Homo sapiens: one gene and its partner. The protein of the gene in region 1 purifies or fractionates together with the protein of each later gene. This does not show direct contact. Each region holds a gene or a part of one and is shown on either strand. Other genes may lie near its edges. The genes, in order: SETD7 and RNF111.

Region 1 (3,824 bases):
AGCGAGTAAGGAGCCTCTCCCTCTCAGTGTCCTCAGACAGGGGATGAGAGTAAAATAAAAGAAATCCTGTTGTGAAAAATACTGTAACTAGAGGTACACTGTGGAAAATCATAGTTCTGACATTAGTATTAAATTATCACACAAAAAGACCAACTATCCCAAAGACAGGCATTTAAAAAATTGAAGTCTAGAGAGTTGCCCTCCTGTGTGTACCTGTTTATGTCTTATTACTGGGACTGCAATGATGTGGCTTTGAAGAACTTTGCCAAGCATTTTTTCATCAATCTCATGAGGAGAGGCAACAAGCTGAGAAACCGATGAAGCAGAAGAACCAACAAGGTGGCAGAATCTTGCTTCGGGGTACTAAGATGCCAGATTGTGACATCTGGGAGAGTGTGCTGAACGCAATAGAGTGTGTGTGACCCTTGGAAAAAAGTGTGAATCTGACTTTACTGGAACTGTGCAAACTGGCCACTGACAAAAACGATCCCCACTTGTGTGACTTCAGGGAGATGCGCTACCGGAATGATCAAGTGAAATCCATCAAAGAATTGGGTGACCATGTAACCAACTTATGCAAGATGGGGGCCCCCAAATCTGGTATCTTTTGGCCAAGCACACTCTGGGAGACAGTGATGACAAGAGCTAAGCCTTAGGCTGGCTGTCCCATAACCACAGGGTGACTTCCCCAGTCACCAAAGCAGTGCCTACAGGTAGGGGTTAATTTTACCCATTGAATAAATTGTAGAAAAACTTCCACTTGAATTCTTTCGTTTGTATTAGTCCTTAACATAAAATAATTCGGTACCCCCAAAGAACAAAATAAAACTGTGAGTGCTACCTGCCATCAAAGAAGAAGAACTTCCCCCGTCCGTTCTTTTCTCCGTGAACAAAGTTCCCCTCAAATCTGTCTGTGGAGGAGTAGGTGACTGTGCAGAACCCGTGCGGTAATCCGTCATCGTCCAGGTGCCCTGGAGAAAGGGAACCACAAGGCAAACCTTAACATCTTCAGTGCTCCTCCCATCTGACGTCTAAGCATTCAGATGCTGCCAGACAAGTCCCCCACCCAACTCCCCTCCAGCTGCCAAAGGGTCCCCTCCCTGGAAAGAAAGGGTAGTCAGCGTGCAAAAGTTTCTCACCTCATCGGCACCAGCAGTACCAAATTGATTGTTATGTACACTTTGTGAACTGATAGGTCCAGAACAGACTTAGACACATTCCAGAATATGAACTTTAAATAAGCTTGCTTTTTACCTGGAACTGAGAGTCATTATCAGTAATATTATCTGCAGGGCATGTCACAATTTACCAAGTACTCTCCCGAGAGTCCTCATATTTGGAATTGATGCCTCCAATCTCTCATGCTTAACTGAAGTGTGGTTGAGATTCCACTGTTTTATAGTCAATTGCCACATACACAGTCTTTGGAATAAATTATCTAATTCTAGAACATTAAGTATGCAATATGATTTTATACATCATTCTATAATATGATGTGGAGGACTGCTAGCCAGTCTGAAAATCTCACTGTTATTGTTATATTCACACAAGGAACAGTGTCATATCTTTAAAACTGCCCTAAGATTTATATAGCTCATTGTACAAACACAGAAACCCAGAGTCCTTCTCACCTTAAACTTAAGCTTAACCTTAAACCTACTGGTTTACTTTACAAAATCTTTCAGCTTTGAATGTTTAGTAATAACCTTATCCTATACCGTCCACCACTGTGTCTCAGAGGGCTTGTGTTTTAAATGGAGCCAGAGTATGCACATGGTCATTTAAGCAATGATTGTGAACATCAGCAGAAGTTATTACATGGACTTTTAAGTCACTGGTTATTCCTAGGTCAAAGATTGGTATAGTTTAATACTGACATTTACAGTCAATGTTTATGCTTTTTATTACTATCTACATGTTTTACAAAACCCAGGAATCACCTTATTGGTGTCTTCCCAATCATTCTGGTGAGCTGATTTTGCAGAGGTGGGTGAAAATGAAGGCAGTAGTTATTCTACTGGCTTTTTCTTGGGGTAATAACCTGGGTCATGGAGAGAAAAGGTATGAAAACATTAAACACTGTGTCTAATGCAGGGACATTAAACATTGAAATGTAGCTTCCAGATGGCTCACAGACATAAAAGGCAACACAAACCATACTACCACAGTGAAAGCTTTAGTCTCCTCAAATAATTTATTCTAACATGATAAAAGAATATTAGCCCTTGGAAAAGATGGTAAGTACACACTCTTATAAAGAATAAATATGCGGCCGGGCATGGTGGCTCACGCCTATAATCCCAGCACTTTGGGAGGCTGAGGTGGGTGGATCACCCTAGGTCCAGAGTTTGAGACCAGCCTGGCCAACACAGTGAAACCCCGTCTTTACTAAAAATACAAAAAATTAGCCAGGCATGGTGGCGGACGTCTGTAATCCCAGCTACTCAGGAGGCTGAGGCAGGAGAATCGCTTGAACCCAGGAAGCAGAGGTTGCAGTGAGCCAAAATTGTGCCACTGCACTCCAGCGTGGGCAACAAGAATGAAACTCCATCTCAACAACAACAATAAAAAGAATAAATATGCTCTTTATTTGTATCATTAATTACATAAACATAAAATAGCTGCAAACAACTACAGTGTTTTATTGCTACATCTGACTCTGTATACAATGGGTTACCTAGAACATCTTACAATAAGACACATCTACTTAAATAAATCATAATCAATATGGATCCCTTCCTCTTAACACAAAAGAGGAAAGGCCCAGGAAATTAATGGTCAGAAGGGAACTAGGCCATAATTGCTTTCTTCTCGCTCAAAAACTAATTGTACATGACATAAATTCAATGACATTTGAGTCATATGAAATCACTTGGACAATTATTTTCTAAATATCTGATGCCATTTCTCTCATTGAAATAAATTAAATTTGCTTTTTTCTTTTCATTAAAAAAAGCCACTCAGTGTATTGCTAAGAGCTTTTTTTAGTGAAATGTTGTTGCGATCAAGTTAAATTTAGGCATATAAATTCAGTGTCCTACTTTTGATTTAGGTATTAATATCCAAATAATCAGTTTAGCCTCATACTAGAGCATTTATTAACTTGTTGAAAATGCTTTCACCATAGAAAACAGTTCACATATTTCAGAGTTTTAAAAGCTTATGTTTGATAAAATGTGTTATTCCACTTTAGATTGAGAGAATTACAATAAATCTGAACACTAAGAAAAAAATGTCCAATATAAATTAATTTCCACCTTCCTTCAGCCCTGTGCTATTTCTGAATAAAACACTGAAGGTGCACCCTCAGCAATGGAATTTAGATATTAGGGAAAGTTGAAAGTGTCATATAACATACTGTAAGCCCTTGGAGGATAGTACTGATCCCAGTTGAGATGACAACAAAAATGTCAACTCCACTCCATGAAGAATTATTCCTTCCTTCCTTCCTCCCTTTTTGCCTCCCTCCCTCCTTCTCTCCTTTTCTTCCTTTCTTACCTCACTCCCTCCTTCCCTCTTTCTCTTCCTCCTTCCTTTATTTTTTAGAGACAGGGTCTCACCCTGTTACTCAGGCTGGAGTGCAGTGATGAGACCATAGTTCACTGTAACCTCAACTTGTAGGCTCAAGTGATCCTTCTGCCTCAGCCTCCAATGTAGCTGGGACTATAGGTAGACATCACCACAACTGGCTAATTTAAAAAAAAAAATTTTTTTTTGAGACAGAGTTTTACTCTTTTTGTCCAGACTGGAGTGCAATGGTGCGATCTTGGCTCACTGCAACCTCCGCCTCCCGGGTGCAAGCAATTGTCCTGCCTCAGCCTCCC
Region 2 (3,824 bases), on another chromosome or scaffold:
TATATATGGCTAGGTGTCAAGTCTGAATCAATGTTGTAGTCATTTCCCTTATTCATATGTACTATAGGGCACTCGAATAAATTACTTATTTTACTATCTTTTGACATCCCAATTTGTTGTTACTTAAATTTTTTTTTTTTTTTTTTTTTTTTAATGGAGTCTCACTCTGTGGCCCAGGCTGGAGTGCAGTGGCCCCATCTTGGCTCATTGTCACCTCCACCTTCCAGCTTCAAGTGATTTTCCTGACTCACCCTCCCAGGTAGCTGGGATTAGAGGTGCACGCTACCACGCTCAGGTTATTTTTTATATTTTTGGTAGAGATGGGGTTTCGCTATGTTGGCCAGGCTGGTCTCGAACTCCTGACCTCAAGTAATCCTCCCGCCTTGGCCTCCCAAAGTGCTGGGATTACAGGCGTGAGCCACCACGCCTGGCTACTTACATTTTTATTTTGACATAATTTCAAACTTACCGAAAGATTTAAAAAATAGTACTGAGAACTCTTGAATACTCATTATTCAGATTCACCAATTTTTAATGTTGTCACTCTTGCTTTCTTATTTTCTCTCTCTTTTTTTTTTTTTTTTTTTTTTGAGGTGGAGTCTCGCTGTGTTGCCCAGGCTGGAGTGCAGCAGTGTGATCTCGGCTCACTGTAACCTCCATCTCCCAGGTTCAAGCGATTCTCCTACCTCAGCCTCCTGAGTAGCTGAGATTATAGGTGCCCGCCACCACGTCCAGCTAATTTTTGTATTTTAGTTAGAGACGAGGTTTCACCCTCTTGGCCAGGCTGGTCTCAAACCCATGACTTTAAGTGATCAGCCTACTTCAGCCTCCCAAAGTGCTGGGGTGAGCCTTTGCGCCTGGCCCCTTATTCTCTCTTGAATCATTTAAAAGTAAATTGCTTACATTATGCCCATTACATTGCATTATGCCCATTTGTTTCTAAATATTCACTGTGTATTGTATTCTTTTGCGTTATCACTGCACCAGTTACAAAATTCAGAAAATTAAACTTTGATAATATTAATCTACAGCTCATTTTCCAGTTTTGTCGAATTGTCCTGATAATAGCATTTATCCCTTTACAGCATTTTCCTCATAGGACCCAGTTCAGGATCACAAAATGCATTTAGTTGTCATATCTCTTTAGTCTCCTGTAATGTGGAACAGTGCACCTAATAAGCAATCTGTGGGGATAACTTTGAGATAGTGCAGCTACTCTGCTCCTCATCAGATCATCCTGTTCCTCATCACTCCCCACATCCCCCAAGGCCCATGTAGCATCCATTGATGTTTCTTGCCTATGCTGATCTTTACTGATCTTTACTCTAATGGTTGGAAAGTGTTTATTTTGTAACTCATCCATTTTCTTCACTAATGGACATTCTTTTATAAGGAAGAGACATTCTTTTATCTGATTAATACAGAATTGTGTGTTTCCTGTTTTATTCAGTGGGTTAAATAACCCATTATAACCTTTATTTTGATGTTCAAATTGTCCCAGATTTGTCCATTAGGAGCCTTTCCAAGTGGGCTCCTGTGTCTTTTTAACATAACCTCTTGTTTTTTTTTTTTGACGGAGTCTCACTCTTGTCTCCCAGGCTGGAGTGCAGTGGCGCGATCTTGGCTCACTGCAACCTCTGCCTCCCGGGTTCAAGCAATTCTCTGCCTCAGCCTCCCAAATAGCTGGGATTATAGGCGCCTGCCACCATGCCCGGCTAATTTTTGTATTTTTAGTAGAGACGGGGTTTCACCATCTTGGACAGGCTGGTCTTGAACTCCTGACCTTGTGACCTCGTGATCCACCTGCCTCAGCCTCCCAAAGTGCTGGGATTACAGGCATGAGATGCCGTGCCCCGGCCTTTTTTTTTTTTTTTTTTTTTTTTAAGTATTTCCTGTCTTTCTGGCACAGCAAGATGTTGCAAGCACATCTTATTTCTTTCCTTTGTCAGTCTTGGAATGAGCCGTTTTCCATGGAACCCTGGTTCCTTTTAGTGAGCAATCCAATTTGCTGTTGTGTTATTTATATACAGGAATAATCTTTTTTTCATGCATCAGGACATCGCTAGGAAACTAAATTTAAATTAGATTTTTGATAGTAGGTTTATATTTCTTTGAAGATTTTATGAAGTAATCACGTAAGACTCAGCAACTTATTGTCATAAAGCAATTTTTTTCTTCTTTTCTTTTTCAAATACATAATGAGTTATGTTCTTAATTGTGATCATATGAAATGAGAAAAAATTGTGTGTGTATGTTTAGCCACTTAACTGTTTATTAAAAACCTGAAGTTTATACTTTTAACTATTTTTAACTAAGTCATCAAACATTCTAATCTGAAGAAAACTGTTGCTTTTTAAGAAACTTTAAAATGAGTTCAAAAAATTGGGCTGGGTGCGGTAGCTCATACCTATAATCCCAGCACTTCGGGAGGCCGAGGCATATGGATCCCTTGAGGCCAGGAGTTCAAGATCATCCTGGCCAACCTGATGAAACCCTGTCTCAACTGAAAAATGCAAAAAAAAAAAAGTAGCCAAGTGGGGTGGTGCATGCCTGTAATCCCAGCTACTTGGGTGGCTGGAGCAGGAGAATCGCTTGAACCTGGGAGGTGGAGGTTGCAGTGAGCCGAGATCATGCCACTGTACTCCAGCCTGGGCAGTAGAGCAAGACTCCATCTCAAGAAAAAAAAAATTAAAAAATTATGAAACAGAATTTTTGTATGTGATTGAAAACTCATCAGTACTTTCTTTTTTTTTTTTTTTTTTTTTTTTTTTTTACCCAGGCAGTTACTGTTACATCTTGGTATATTTCATAGCCAGTTTCTCACCTGTGTATGGATATTTGCTTTATTTACTTATTCAATCTAACTTAATGTGTGTTTTTTCAAAGTAATATTTTGAATATTTTAAATTTTCAACCAATTAATATCTGTACACGGTTTTAAAAGTCAGTTTCAAAAGACTTACAATGAAAAACAGTGGTTTCCTATGCAACTCTCCTAATCTCCTAGTTGTACTGCTTAAACAGAAACATTTTAGCTCTCAAAAATTATTTCTGTAGTCTATACCTTTATATTTATAAGTAGTATGCTTATATTTGTTTGTATTTACTTGTGTACTTATATTTCTACTAATATGCTTAATTTTTACTTAGTTTTCATGTCAGTTTAAGTGTCTTTTTTTAAGTTAATTTTTTCAGAGAAAAGTAATATATACAAAGTGTACCAAATTTATAAGGTACAAAGAATGTACAGGGAAAAAAAACAAGGCTCCTTGCCATTCTTATCTTCCTATGACCCAAGTCTTTTCTCTGAAGATGTATCTCTTTCCTCCTGTATTTTATATGTGCATCCAGAGTAGTGGTTCTCAGAGTGTGGTCTGTTGACTCTTGAGGTAGCTCTTCCAAGTGTTCAGGAGGTCTACCAGGTTGAAACTATTTCAGAATATTACCAAGTTCTCATTTTCTATGTAACTGATGTGAACACCAGTTGACATTTGCACTGATGGTGCAAAAAACAGTGGTGCATTAAACTAATGGCCCTGTAGCACAAATCAAGACAGTGGCCAAACTGCATTAGTAATCACTATGTTCTTCATGACTACACATTTGCAGTTAAAAAAAAAAAAAAAATCAGGGCTGGGTATGGTGTCTCACGCCTGTAATCCCAGCACTTTGGGAGGCTGAGGTGGCCACATCACGAGGTCAAGAGATCGAGACCATCCTGGGCAACATGGGGAAACTCCATCTCTACTAAAAATACAAAATTAGCAGGGCGTGGTGGCATATGTCTGTAATCCCAGCTACTCGGGAGGCTGAGGCAGGAGGAT

The links.
Region 2: the proteins of SETD7 (region 1) and RNF111 purify together in Homo sapiens (affinity purification with western blotting, with the first as the bait; one study listed by BioGRID). This does not show direct contact.

What each region holds. Positions count from the first base shown.
Region 1 is NC_000004.12:139,546,079-139,549,902, forward strand, and holds part of SETD7 (histone-lysine N-methyltransferase SETD7), read right to left. Parts: intron 2,042-3,824; exon of another isoform or gene 1,941-2,041; intron 972-1,940; coding exon 842-971; intron 1-841. UniProt on the Homo sapiens protein: Histone methyltransferase that specifically monomethylates 'Lys-4' of histone H3. H3 'Lys-4' methylation represents a specific tag for epigenetic transcriptional activation.
Region 2 is NC_000015.10:58,993,906-58,997,729, forward strand, and holds part of RNF111 (E3 ubiquitin-protein ligase Arkadia), read left to right. Parts: intron 1-3,824. UniProt on the Homo sapiens protein: E3 ubiquitin-protein ligase. Required for mesoderm patterning during embryonic development. Acts as an enhancer of the transcriptional responses of the SMAD2/SMAD3 effectors, which are activated downstream of BMP.